Linked DNA regions of Homo sapiens. The protein of the gene in region 1 interacts with the protein of each later gene in a pairwise test. Each region holds a gene or a part of one and is shown on either strand. Other genes may lie near its edges.

Region 1 (7,019 bases):
ACATGCAACTCAACAATGACAAGGAAATAGGAAGATTGCTATGCTGAAGAAGTGTGGAGAATGTGGGGGGATGTGGAAAAAGGAAGTGGAGCTCTGAGGTTAGCTTGGGGTAGTCAGCGAGGCTTCCTCAAGGAGGAAAGGCTTGAGCTGACCCCTGATTACAGGTGTTTGCCAGGCAGAGAGGTGAATACATTTCAGATAGACAGGACAATGTGAGCCAAGGCACTTCTTCATGGCAACAAATAGGGTGTATTTCAGGATTGCTGGAGTGTGCAGTACAGTAGGGAGGAGGAACTGGAGAGAAGTCTGAAGAGAGAGGGAGGGCTACCTCACTGATTTCACATACCACACTACAAAGTAGAGGCTCTATCCAGTAGGCTCTATCCAGTAGGGCTTCCATGTCTTGACTGGCTGTACCAGAATTATTTGGATTGCTTATTAAAAATACAGATTCTTGGGCTTATCCAGCTTTCTGAATGAGTCTTCAAGTTGGGTCCCAGTGACCCATATTTTTAACAGGATCCCCAGGATGGCCATGATATCTGACTTAAGAGATAGTATGTTCTAGAGAATATACACCACAGTTATAAAGAACAAAAGCAGTTCCCTCCTACATGTCCACTGCCTTCCCCTACATTAGTGCTGGGGGTGCCCTCCCATCCCTATGATCCCTTCTTTGGAGCTTTGAGAGAATGAGAAGAATGGGATTCTGAGACAGGGGATGCAGATGGGTACTCCAATGCCATGTGGATTGTCTGCCCATTGACAGTGATCACTTATCAATGGCTGTGAAGGTAACACTTCACCCAGTGAGGCAGAAACATGAGATTTGTAAGCCATTATTCCTCCGTTTCTTGAAGAACAACTCTTAGTAGTTCTGAAACCCCATTTCTACTATGATTAAAACCTACTTCCAATCGAGAAGGGTGTTAGGATGTCAGATGGCATTCAAGAAAGTACAAGCTTACCTCTGTCAAATGCCATTTTGACATCTTCAATGTGTTCAGTGAACCCAGAGACTCTGTAAAGGCCTTCCGATTTTAATCCTGTTAGAGAGAGAGAGAGAGACTGACTTTAGCTTCTTGAAACATCTAAAAAAAAAAAAAAGACTAATTTCACGTCTATACTACATGCTATCAGAAAATGAGCAAACATAGACAGTGATTTTATTTATCACACACTGTTGCATCAGAACTTGGACTTGTCTGTCTCAATTTCCCAGGCAAGTCTGTTCTCATTTGCCCATGTAGCAGTGGAGATCTCAATGGAAATCCAGTCTTCATCCTTCCCTGCTTTGCAAAGAGAACTGATATTTAAGATTCCCATGGACCGTTCCCTTACTTCCTTTCCTGTGTTCATGAGCTTGATGGACATGAATTTCGTCATCGTAGGAAGCAACCTGGCTTTCTTCCTAGCATCATCTTTATTAATTTTTGTGGGTACACAGTAGGTGTATATATTTATGGGGTATATGAGATATTTTGATACAGGCATAAGATGTGTAATAATCACAGCAGCGCAAATGGGGTACCTAGCATCATCTTAATCCATGTGCTATATTGTATGTAGCACTGTACTAGATACACACATGTATGTATGTGGGTATCTAATCTGTATTACTCTGATTGTATTGGAAAAAATTAGACTATTACAGCCTTTCATGTTTACTTGTAAATAAGACTATGTTAACTGTTTAATTAAAAACGGTTACTTGTTATACTTTTAGACAACTGATTATACAAACAGATGCAGGAAAATAAAGTTTTGGTTATTGCTTCTGGAAATTGGATCACTGCAAATTTAGGCTAAGAAAAAAAGACATGGTTTCTGTCCCTGGAGCTTATTGATTTGTTAAGATATGTCCTAAAAACGAGTCAGTTCCCAAAAGTATGAGCAGGGATAAAGGACTGGGTTTCAGACTTTGTATGTCACAAACTAGCTGCTATCAAAACTATAGCTACAGTAAAAATGAGCAAACAAATAGCCTCTGCTGCTGCCGCCATATATTCTGCCAAACTCTTGATAACTCACATATTCTCCTGTTTTTTCATTTGGAAAACATTTATGGAGTATGTATTATCTGCCATATATAAGGGTCTTCATTAGGTATGCATCAGAGACAACAAATACGTGGCGTAAATCACGAATACTTCCCCTCATCCCTCCTGTGACCATGACAGATACTCTTAGTTGATCTCAGCCCTTTTTCCCACTGAGCCCTATTTAGCCTCAGAATTCATCTCAGTTCCAATTGTTCAGGTGACCACTACTGATCAACTGGAGTTGCCACACAAGACGAAACCTGTGGGTCATCCTGTTCTAAGATGTTGGTGCATATGAGCACATCTCATTCCAGTTGGAACATGCACTGCCACAGAGGCACAGACCCAGTGGATTATGGGAGCCCCTAGCAGTGAACAATGAACCCTGCCTGTTGATGGATGAATCAAAGTTCTGGCCTCTGGTGAGGCTCTCTTTCTGGCTCATAGATGGCCACCTTCTCTCACACGTCCTTTCCTTGGTATATGTGCATGGAGAGTGAGAGAGCGAGCTTGCTCTTTGGTGTCTCTTCTCATAAGGATATTAGTCATAATGTTTAGGGTCCCTCCCTCAGGACCTCATTTAGCCTTAATTATTTCTTTGGAGACCTCCGTCTCCAAAGACAATCACACTGGAGATTAGGGCTTCAATATGTAAATTTGGTGGGGCAGGGGACACAAACATTCAGCCATAAGATTCACTGAGTCACTTTCAAAGAAATCCAGGTTTTCAAGGAACGTAGAAAAATCCATGCTTTTGTTCTCACTCATAAGTGGGAGTTGAACAGTGAGAACACATGGACACAGGGAGGGGACCACCACACACCGGGGCCTGTTGGAGGGTGGGGGTCAAGGGGAAGGAGAGCATTAGGACAAATACCTAATGCATACAGGGCCTAAGACTTAGATGACAGGTTGATAGGTGCAGCAAATCACCATGGCACATGTATACCTATTTAACAAACCTCCACATTCTGCACATGTATCCCGTCACTTTTAAAAAAAAAAATCTATGCCTTATATAATATGCCAAGTTGTATGGTTTGGATTATAATTAAATGGGGGTAATTTTCCTGACTTTAGCCCATGCTTCACTGAGCAAAGCGTCACCCTGTATTACATCGAGATGCTTTTTTAAGAAGCTAATCTTTGAAGGAAATGATAAAGGATGGTTAGAGTTTGCCAGAGTAGCAGAAGTTGCCAGCTATCCTTCCAATATTTGTTCTCCCATTCTTCTGTTGTAATGGAACCTTTGATTTTTAGAACAATATCCATTGCAGTGGCCATTAAACTCTGGCCCATGTGAGAGCAGAAGTGACATTTACAGCTTCTGTGGCCTTGAAGGAATGGAGCATGCTCTTTTCCACTTCCTGTTAAGTGAAATGCAGATGAGATGGTGGTGGCCAACTGTGATTGTGCACGCAGGATAGCACTCAAGCAGGACAGAGCAACAAGCTGCAGTGCCTGGGTTCCTGCCACGGTGGAACAGACTATTCCTGGACTGCTCCTGGGTACCTGGACTATTACTGGGCAAAGAAATAGATTTCTATCTTGTCAAAGGCACTGTTACTCAGGGTCTCTGTGACAGCACTGAGATGTACAGGCTACATAATATAGTTAGACAGATTTGGAGGTGGAGGTATGGGTGTGGGTCATTCCAAGAAAAGGCAAAATTAACATAGATTGAGTTCAGTAGATTGGACATTGTACTCGGTCCATTTATGTATCAAGTCACTTTAATCCTCACCAACCACCTTATGAGGTACAGTTGATTCCATTCATATTATAGATGAAGAAACAGATATGCAAATGTAGTAAGCAACTTGCCCAAGGTCATACTACAGCCAGTAAGAGACAGGGCTGATAATTTAACTTCAAATCCTTGATCTTTTCACTCTGCCACATCACGCAGAGACAAATGAACATAAAAGAACATTTGGAGAACAATAAGGATTTTTTATGGATGGAAGACAGGGAAAAGTGTTGGTAGTGGTGGCCCCACAGCTGGGAATGCGGGTGTCATACAAATTTCTCCCGGTGCATTCTCTGGTTCTGCTTGCATGCTTAGGCCCCTAATACCTGTCTGGGGCTCTAATCCCTGTGCTGTGACTCTTTTGGCATCAATTCCTAATTTGTGCTACTCTATCTCGCTCTTGTACTAGGCAAACTTAGTGCAGTGCCCCCTATTCTTAAATGTTAGACATGTCAGTAGTTATCATGCCTGAATTATCAGTTGTCTTTGGTAAGGATCACAATGGGAGGACCCCAGCTTCTTCAGAAAAGCCCTGACTGCAGGCTCTGGAGAGGCTGATAATCTGACCCCAAACTGCAGGGCCCAGGGTCACTTGTCCCAACCACTCATCCAGAGGCAGGGAATCCCTCCTTTCCTCTTACCCAGTTTAGCCACTGGATTAATATGTTCACCAGATCCCAAAGCACTCATTAAGCTCTGTCAGCCACAGTGGTGAAAAGATAGAAGGCATTTCTTACACTCTGGGATTAAATTAGCAAGTTCTCAGGGAACAGGATAGCTATGGTTTTCCCCCTCCATAGAAAAGGGAATAATTTCCTCTCTCTAAAAGGGTTGGGATAATAAGCTATGACATCCTCTTTAGTTGTGCTTTGGAAAAATGGGGTAGTTGACCAATGAATATATATGTATAAAATATATTAAGCCAATTAGGACACAATAATGGATAGCCAGTATAACAGAATATGATACATGGCAAAAGTGGTTTAAGCCTTATAGAAAGGCTCTATACATGGCCAAATCACCCAAATTATATCCGGCAACTTCAGTGAACATTTTGATACTGAACAGTGGCCAAAGAAAGCACAAATAAAGGAAAAGTGACTCATGTACAACATAAAGAACATTTTTTGGAATGTTTCTATCTTCCTTGTTTCCTTTATTTTTCATTGCATAGATCTTTTAAATCTTTGAACTCTCCTCTTCGAAATAAACGATGAATATTAGGAGCACATTTTTATGTGGTAGGAGATGTATGTGTTACTCAACAATTTCTTATTTAACAGAAGCACCTTTTTTTTCAAAGCTCCAATTCAAGCCTCACCTCTGCCATAACCCTTCTCACCGTCCTTAAATAGGATTAAAACATTTTGCTTTGTGACTCCATGGTACCCTGAACACGGCCATCCACAATGTTTATTTATTTGCTCCCCTGATTGCCCACTCTAAAGTATGAATTTCTTCCATGCCTCAGCCTCTCGAGTAGCTGGAACTACAGGTGTGCACCACCACACCTGGCTAATTTTTTAAAAGAATTTTGTAGGATGGGGTCTCACTATGTTGCCCATGCTGGTCTTGAACTCCTGGGCTCAGGTGATTGTCTGGCCTCAGCTTCCAAAAAGTGTTGGGATTACAGGCGTTAGCCACTGCACCCAGCTGAAGTATGAATTTCTTGAAGGTGAGAATGGTGACCTTTATTACCTCAATGCCTACCATATAATAAATGTTCAGTAAACATTTTTTGAATGCATATATGCATGGTTTATATATACAATGGAAATTGATATAGCTGGTTGGATTGAGTCTACCTGTGAGAGAGAGAGAGTGTGTGTGTGCGCACACATGCGTAGGTCATTTTCCCAACAAGAGTAGTAGAGCAACTCTGTTTCCTTGACAACAGTAAAAACAAACAATAAAAATAAAATCACTATACTACTATAATAGGAAGTATTTTCCAAACCTCTTGCTTCAATTTCCCGAATGCATATGTCTACCACCATGGGTCTCTGAGTGTTGTGAGCCTTCACAAGTGTTGTGAGGTCACAACAGTACACTTTCTTGATCCTCTTGAGATCAGGTTGGCAGTCATTGGGAACGTGCTTGGAACACTGTTTGTGTACGTTCAATCCACAGTCTGTAAACAAAGAAGCCACATTAGCCTAGCCCAGCCCTTTTGTCAAAGCACAACACAAATTATATGTTGCCAAAAATAAAAATATCACCACCCAAGGGTTTGACATATTTCTCTGGAACATCTATCCCGTTTCTAGGACTCTCTACAGGATAAATACAAGTATCATCTCTAATCACTAAACCCTTATATGATTCCATTTTTCTCGTTAAGCCTTCTCTGTCGCTGGACCTTAAGAACAGAACATCTGAGACAGCTTAGGTAATTGATCAGGTTTTTTTGTATATGTTTTCCTGTTTCAGGCTGGAACCCTTTGGGTCCACAAGTAGGTTTTCGGGTTTGGATTCCCAGACAGTCCTGGCTTATAAAGGGCACCTAGGGTTTGTTCCAGACTCTTTCCTTTAAGCTCTTGATGCTCCTTGTGTGGGAGGCAGAGTTACTCTTTCTGCAGGACTCTCTAATCTTTGCTTTGAGAAGCCCACGACCATTGGTATCCTCTTCCCCTTTCCTGGAAGGTTGCCCCATAGTTTCCAATCCCTTCCTCCTTGGGCAGTTTGGGTAGGCCGCTTTCCTTTCTACATGCCTTATTTTGACACCTGTGAGTGGAAATAATGCCTAACTATATACACCAGTAGGAGTACTTGAGAGTTTATAACAATACCATGTAATGTAATGTGATGATTATTTATAAAGTTCATATGAAAATCCAAAGCTGAAAAGGGTGCTTTTAAAGTTCAATGAAAACACGAAGAGCCTGTTAGCAGTCAATATCCACTGACGGAATTTCTCTGATGATAAAAAGGCACAGTTGGCCGGGCGTGGTGGCTCACGCCTGTAATCCCAGCACTTTGGGAGGCCGAGGCAGGTGGGCGGATTGCCTGAGGCCAGGAGTTTGAGACCAGTCAACATGGTGAAACCCTGTCTCTACTAAAAATACAAAATTAGCTGGGCATGGTGGTGGACCCCTGTAATCCCAGCTACTCAGGAGGCTGAGGCAGGAGAATCACTTGAACCCAGGAGGCAGAGGTTGCAGTAAGCTGAGATTGCGCCACCGCACTCCAGCCTGGTGACAGAGGGAGACTCTGTCTCCAAAAAAAAA
Region 2 (7,646 bases), on another chromosome or scaffold:
ATGCATCTCCTCCATGCCTTTTTTTTGCTTTGTTTTTTTTTTTTTTTGAGACCAAGTCTCACTTTTGTTGCCCAGGCTGGAGTGCAATGGCATGATCTTGGCTCACTGCAACCTCTGCCTCCTGGGTTCAAGCAATTCTCCTATCTCAACCTCCTGAGTAGCTGGGACTACAGGTGCCCACCACCACGCCCAGCTAATTTATGTATTTTTAGTAGAGATGGAGTTTCACCATATTGGTCAGGCTGGTCTTGCCTGACCTCAGGTGATCCACCAGCCTTGGCCTCTCAAAGTGCTGGGATTACAAGCGTGAGCCACCAGGCCCAGCCTGATGCCCTAGTTTTAATGACCACTTATAACAAATGACTCCCAAGTTTTAATATTGTTAGCACCAACCTTTACTCTGATGTCCATGACAACTCTTCTTGGTTGTTTAAAGGCATCTGAAACTCAACAGGTACAAAGCTGAACTCATGATCTTCCTCTCCAAGTCTAGGCCTCTTTTCATAGTCTCTCCATTAATTGTCAACACTGCCATTCAATAAATATTTATTGAACACCAACTCTGTGCCAGGCACAGGAGACAGAGCTGTGACCAAAACAGACACTCTCATGGAGTGGACATTTTAGTGGATCCTCCATTCCTTTGGGCAAGCCAGACATCAAGTTAGCTTTAATACCCCTCTTCCTCATCGTGATCCTCCCCATGACTAATCCAGCACCAAGTCGGGTGGATTTTTACCTTCTAAATATGGCTTGACCCATTCCTTTCCTATCTCCACTACCAACACTCCACTCTAGCCCCTATTATCCGTCTCTCATCAGAATGAAGATAACAATCTCCTAACTTAACCAGAATCCACTCTACCCCTCCCAATGCATTCTCCATACTGCAATTCTGATTAATCCCTCCCATGGTCACCACCGCTACCTGGTTGTAAATGCTCAGTGGTTTTCCACTGCTCTTTTACTCTCCCAACTCCAGCCATCATGGCCTTTTCCCATCTTTGTACTTACCATGCCCCTCTTGCCACAGATTCTTTGCACACTCTGTTGTCTGTTCTTGGAAAACTTTCTCCTCCTCACCTACTTAACTTATACTCATTCTTCACATTTCAGCTGTAGTGTAACTTCTTCAAGGAAGCCTTTTCTGATATCAGTCAAACTTTCTGTTAATGAGCTCTCCTAGAGCCACAAATCTCCCCTTCTTAAGCTTCTCACAGTAGCACATTTACATTTACATGTGGGGTTATCTGGTTAATGTCTTCCTCCCCCTAGGCTGCAATCTCCCGGAGAGAAAGGACACATCTGTTGCATTCATCGTTAATCCCAGGGTGTAGAACAGTGCCTGACACATAGTAGAAGAGCAGTAAGCATTTGTCAAGTGGATGAATGAATGAATAGCTGGAAAGAGGATCTAGTAAAGTAATGCACGTAAAGCTCCTAGTATAGTAATCCATACATACTAAGTCTTAATTACCATTAATTATCTTACCCCCTCCACCCAGGGAATTCCCAGAACTTGGGAAGGGAAAGTGGCAGGAGTTAGCATCAATGTCTCACAGTGTAATCATGTCACTGCCATCTGTTTCCTTTCGTTCTATATTCAAAAGGCTATAAATGATTTAGACAAATCCTAGCATACTCTGACCCTCCTCCAAAACCAACAGGCAGATGTTGAGGGAGGAAGGTGAGTGGGCCTTAGGCGATCTTATTTTTCCTCTCCTCATAAGGTGGGGGAAGGCCTGGGAACTGAGTGTGTGGCACCTGAGGCTGTATCTTAAGAGTTTGCATGGTAATCCTAGAGAACCACAGATAGCATCCAAGCCAGATGCCAGTCAGAGAGACCCCCGTCCCGGACTCTCTAATTGATGTCCCAGAGCCTTGGGAGGAGGACATGGTTATCATGCTCAGGTTTAACATCCCGAGTGTCTTCTTCATGGCTGCAAGGTGCAAGCACACAGCTAGTATATGCAACTCCAGTGGGAATGAGACTGGATTCCAAATCAGTGGGAAGACAGAGAATAATGGAAACGTAGGAAAGAGGTAGGAAGAGAAAAATAGGGGCATGTCAAGGCGTCGCTGTAGTGCGCATGACAGCAAGGGACAAAAACAAAAACAGAGATGAGAGAACTCCAGACTTGACCCTCCAAGGGCCTGGACAGGCCATCAGGCCGGGCAGTCTCCATCCCCTGACCTCCTCAGCCTGCACTGATTGGGAGGGGCCTCCTCCCTCCCGCCACCGTGGGAAGAGAGAACATGATTCCCTGCAGATCTGAGCAAAGTGCCACAGCCTCCCAGGATGCTCAGCCCTGCCCTGAGAGCTGGGGTGGGTAGGAGGATGGCAGAGAGCGGTCAAGAGCAGTTATTGCCACAGGACACCGGGGGAAGAAGGCGCTGGAGAGAAGGATGGAAGCAGGCAGGACAAGTTCGGAAGGTCAGATGGGATAAAGGCGTCTTTGGTAGGTAGTTCCCGCTTGCCTTTGACCTCTGTTGAGTCTACAAACAGGTATTATGTGCCAACTCTATTTTGGTTAGGGAGACAGGTATGGGTGTGCCTGGGAGGCTCAGGCTACTGGGTGGAATTCAGAAATACCGCGGGGGACAGTCCTCAGCCCCAAACTCAGCCCACTCCTTCCTCGCAAGCTCCCTGGGCCCAAAGCTTGCCGGGCCTCAGTTTCTCCTCCGAGAAAGGGGAGGGCGAGGCTGGCAGTACCTGGCGGCGTCGGGTGGAAGGCAGGGGGCGCACTTGATGGCGTACTCCGTCCGCCAGCGCCTGTGCCGCGCCTGGAACACCTGGCTGAAGCCGCCGCTGGCCACTAGGCGCCAGTCGCCCTCGAAGTCGTCGCGGGTGAAGACGGGGAGGCTGCCCAGCCGCAGCTCGGTGGGGTCGGCAGCCATTGCCCCTCTCTTCCTGTCCCCGCGCCGCGCACTCCCCGCTGTGGCTGCTGCCTGGGTGGCCGAAGGAGCCGCCGCTTCCTGCTCCTCGGGTCCGGGAGAGGGGAATGGGGAGACGAGCCGGCCCTGCCTCCTTCCCCGCCCAAGAGGAGCCGCTCCTGCCCCGCAAAGGTGGGGAAATCCCAGACATGAGCCCTGAGGCCCCAGCAGGGATGGAGCGACCTGGGCCTGGGGAAGAGGGTATGTCCCTCCGAAGCCCTCGCATTTCCCCTGTCTCAGCCTTTGATTTTCCCCAGTTCCCCCTAGGGAGGGATGCTGGGAGAAGGTGTCCCGAAGCTGGAAGAAGTCCAGCCTGAGAAGTTGGATCCAGTTTATTTAGGCCCAGCGCTAAGTGAAATCGGTTTATGCATTCCTTCAGTGCATTCAAGGTTTTATGGTTTATGAAGGATTCAGGCCTGGACCCCTGCCCCTATCCAGCAAGTATGGGGCTCAAACAATTTTAATGGGGATTTTCTGGTCTGAATCTGTTGGTCTGACTGGTTTCATGTTTCCTTTGTTCTTGTTGGGGTTTTGTTTGTTTGTTTGTTAGCCAGCCTTGGTGTGCTATAGGTTACCAAGGAGGGGTCAGCAGGGACAGAGTTGCGGGGGAGGCTGGGCTCCTGTCTGCAGGGGACTCCCTTCCTGGGCTGCGCTCTATCCAACCTCAGAGGGATGGACCCCAGCCTCGGGGTGGCCACGGGGGAGGTGGCCTCCTTGGCGCAGTTACTAGGGGCAGTTTGTTGCCAGGGATGAGAGGAGGCTCTAGCTGGAGCCTGACCAGTGCTGAGCTTGGAGGTTCCCCTGGGTCCTGGGTCCATGGGATTGCCCTCTCACCTTGGAGACCCTCAGAGCAGGGAAAATGACAAGTGCTTGAACAGACAGGTCTCCCCAGGGGCACTGACCAAGTGGGCCATTGCCCAGAGACAGGCATACCTGGAGGAACTGTGGCCACGGAGTGCAGAGTCAGCCACTATTTGCCTACAGCTGAGTAAGTCCACAAGGAGCCCTCAGAGTGATCACTGTTAGGTTTGAGGAGCCTACCTACCAGACAAGGAAGTGCCTTGCCTTCAGCCCAAACCTGCAGAGCCCCTCGTCCATGCCACAAGCCCACCAGACTCCCAGGGAACAGTGTAGGCATGATAGGCAAACAGAGACTCCCTGTGGAAGCTGGAGAACTTGCTCCCTCTGTAACAACTTACCTGCAACTTCCAGGATGAATTCTGGCAAGCAGATTAAGGATCAAAGATTGGGCCTGGAGACAGTTGTCATAGAAACTAGTGATAGCCACTACTAATTGAACACTCACTTTGTTCCAGGATCAGTGACTATTTCAGTTACTGCATTGCTTTACATATATTATCCTGTTTATCTTGCAACAATGTTATGAGGTCAACATCTTCTATTCACAGATGAGGAAACTGGCTTCAAGACAATAAGTAATCAATGGACACATAGCTAGTAAGTGGTAGTTGATATTCAAACTCAAGTCTCTTAGTTTCTATGGAAATGGTTGGCCAGGGGAGGATCAGGGAGTAGCCTTTTATGAATACAAAAAAGGAAGAGAGAGAGTCATGCTCCCTGGAAGAGGGTGGAGATGATGGAAACTGCATCAGGAGCAGGACGTATCCCCCAAACATATGTCAGAGGGAGGCCCCCAGCTTGCTTTGGCTGGAGCAAGACAGGGCATAACAGAACCCATTGTCTCTGGAGTAGCCCTGCCTGCCCAAGTTTAAAGCCTCTGCCAGAGAAGTTTGGAAGGTGATAAAGGACATTGTCATCAGGGAGACCAGGAGGTCAAGAGGATGTTTCATACCTTCTACTGGGAGGGTGAACATGGAGACTGGGAAGGTGACCAGCCACCCAGCTCTGCGGAAGTTTGACTGAGGCCCGATCTTTGACATTCAGCGAGACCTATCTCAGCTCCTGGAGGAAATACCAAGGGTGAATGGCCTGAGTCATTTCAGCAGTTCCCCTTGATCCACTTATACCTGAAGTGGCTCTCCAGGGAGAGGAAGTAACCAGAAGCTGCCATTGTCTGCCTGCAGAGACTGTCACAGGAATACTGAAGAAAGCATCATTCCTAGAAGAGGGGACACCCAGGGCTCAAGGCATGTTGCCAGAATCCCGAACAAAATACCTCTGAATTTCTCACAGGGGTGGAGGTGGAGGAACTGCAGGGTCAGGGCGTATTACTGCTGACCCACCTGTTGAAACTCTCTGCTGTGGGTTCAAGCACCCCTGAGGCTTCTGAGGAGTCAGTCAAAATAGATACATTCATTGACCCAGAGGGACTGGATCATTTGACTGGGCTTGTCCTGCTCCTTACAGCTGTCTAACATGGGCTAGGGCAAAGGCCTAGTAGTCTTTGGATAAGCTCTGGGAGAAGTTGTAAGTGGAGGGACCCTTTCTGAGTATAAGGTCACAGAGGCAAAGAACTCCTGGATCTCTCATTAAAAGTGGGGTGAGGTATAGGGATTTGCAAAAGAGTAAAGTCAACTCAGAGGCTGCTGGTTTCTTTCCAGTGGTCTGAGTGCAGAAGTCCCTAGGTCCTGGCTGGTTGGGAAGTCAGCAGCCAGTGTGTGGAGGGGAGAGAGCTGGGGGGTTGGGAGGGAAACTCTACCTTTACCCATATCTACCTACAAATGGGAATGGATAATGAAGTGGTTATAGTCCAATTATGACCCCCACCCACCAGAAGGGGCAAGGAACAGGTTCTAGCTATAGAAGTTTTACCCCAAAATGCTCTGAGTCCTTCCAACTAACCTCTATCAGTGCATTTTGTTTGGGCAGATTGAAGATGGAAGTGTTCTGGATTTGGAGTTATTAAATGAATTTTGTGTGTATGTGTGATTGTCTTTGGGGAACCTAAGATTTTTAGCCTGCTCCTCCCAGACAAGTGAGCTGGTACAGGAGCTCTGCAATACTTTAGAAGATGCTGAAATCTGATGTGAGCCTTTCCCCAAACCGGAATGACAAGCTATTTGCATATAGGGAAGTTTCCCAGTCTGCCCCTGTTCTCCACCCTGCAAACATGTCACGGAGAACCCTGGACAGGTTCTGGCAGGCCCCAGCCTCTGGTAGCTTGTGTACTGAGGTTGGTCAGGATAAAGGAATGTATGCAGGAAAGTGGAACATCTGTTCAGGAAGCAGGACTCCCAGAGTGAAAGGGATTGAATGAGGCAATAGGAACAGGGTTTAAATGTGGGAGTGAGTCAGTCAGTCAGACCCGCATTTAAACCCTGGCTTCTTTCTATCACTTAGCATTTGTTTAACCTTGGTCACATTATCAAATCTTTCTGGGTTTCTCCATCTGTAAAATAGATGATAATCATAATAACCATTCCAAAACATTGCTATAAGAATTATAACCTTTAAAAATATACCTAGTATATTAGTATAATATTATACTAATATAACATAAAAATACAATATAATATCATATTAGTTTAATATACCTAGGATATTTTTAAAGGTTATAATTCTTACAGCAACCTTTTGGAATGGTTATTATGATTATCATCCATAAAATATATCTAAATACTAGGTATATTTTTAAAGGTTACATTCCTTAGGTATATACTAGGAATACTCCTAGGCAAAAAATATGAACCAGCTGATACTTCACACCTGAAAAATTAACTCAAAATGAATCATGGACTTAAATATTAAATGTAAACTTATAAAAATTTTAGGAAAAAAAAAGGAGAAAATATTCTGGACCTAGGATTAGATGAAAAGTTCTTAGGCCGAATCCCACAGGCACAATCCATAAAAGGGAAAATTGATAAACTGAACCTCATCAAAATGAAAAACTCTCACTCAGTGAAAGACCTGGTGAAGGTGAAGAGAAGAGTGCAGATGGGGAGAAAATGTTTGTAAAGCACATATTTGACAAAGTGCTGGTTCATAGAGTATATAAGGAGGTCTTCAAACTCAATGCTAAAAAAGCATCAAATTAGAAAATGGGAAAATACATTTCTCTGAAGAGAATATACAGATGACAAATAAGTTCTTGAAAAAATGTTTAATATCATGAGCCACTAAGCAATGCAAGTAAGATATCACTAACTACCTATCAGAATGGCTAAAAATAAAACTGAAAAGATAGTGGCAACGCCAAATGCTGATGAGGATGTAGAGTAATGGGATCACTCATACGCTGGTGGAAATGTAAAATGGTATGGCAATTCTAGAAAAGAATTTGGCCATTTCTTATAAGACTAAACATATGATTACCATACAACCCAGCAATTGCACTCTTGGGAATCTATCCCAGAGAAATGAAAACAGTGTTCACACAAAAATCTGTATATGAATGCTCATTGCAGCTTTATTTGCAATAGCTAAAATCTGGAAACCGCTCAGATGTCCTTCAACCAATGAATGGCTAAACACACCATAGTGCTGTATTATGGAATAGGACTCAGCAACTACTGATATACACAGCCACTTGGATGAGGCCCCAGAGAATTCTATTGAGTGAACAAAGCCAATCATAAAAGGTTACATACTGTATGACTCCATTTATATTGCATTCTTAAAATGACAAAATTATAGAGATGGAGAACAGATTAGTGGTTGTCAGAGGTGAGATTGGGGGAGAGGCAGGTGGGTGTAGCTGTAAAAGGTTAGTGCAAAGGAACCTTGTGATGAAACTATTCTGTATCTTAACTGTGGTGGTGGCCACATGAATCAATGCATGTGACAAAATT

What was found. Proteins that work in one complex are often made in the same cells at the same time.
Region 2: the proteins of CHN2 (region 1) and ANKK1 interact in binary tests that used the Homo sapiens proteins (3 or more experiments, as listed by UniProt).

What each region holds. Positions count from the first base shown.
Region 1 is NC_000007.14:29,498,771-29,505,789, reverse strand, and holds part of CHN2 (beta-chimaerin), read right to left. Parts: intron 5,924-7,019; coding exon 5,750-5,923; intron 1,047-5,749; coding exon 969-1,046; intron 1-968.
Region 2 is NC_000011.10:113,383,137-113,390,782, reverse strand, and holds the start of ANKK1 (ankyrin repeat and protein kinase domain-containing protein 1), read right to left. Parts: upstream 3,005-7,646; 5' UTR 2,899-3,004; coding exon 2,714-2,898; intron 2,708-2,713; exon of another isoform or gene 394-2,707; intron 1-393.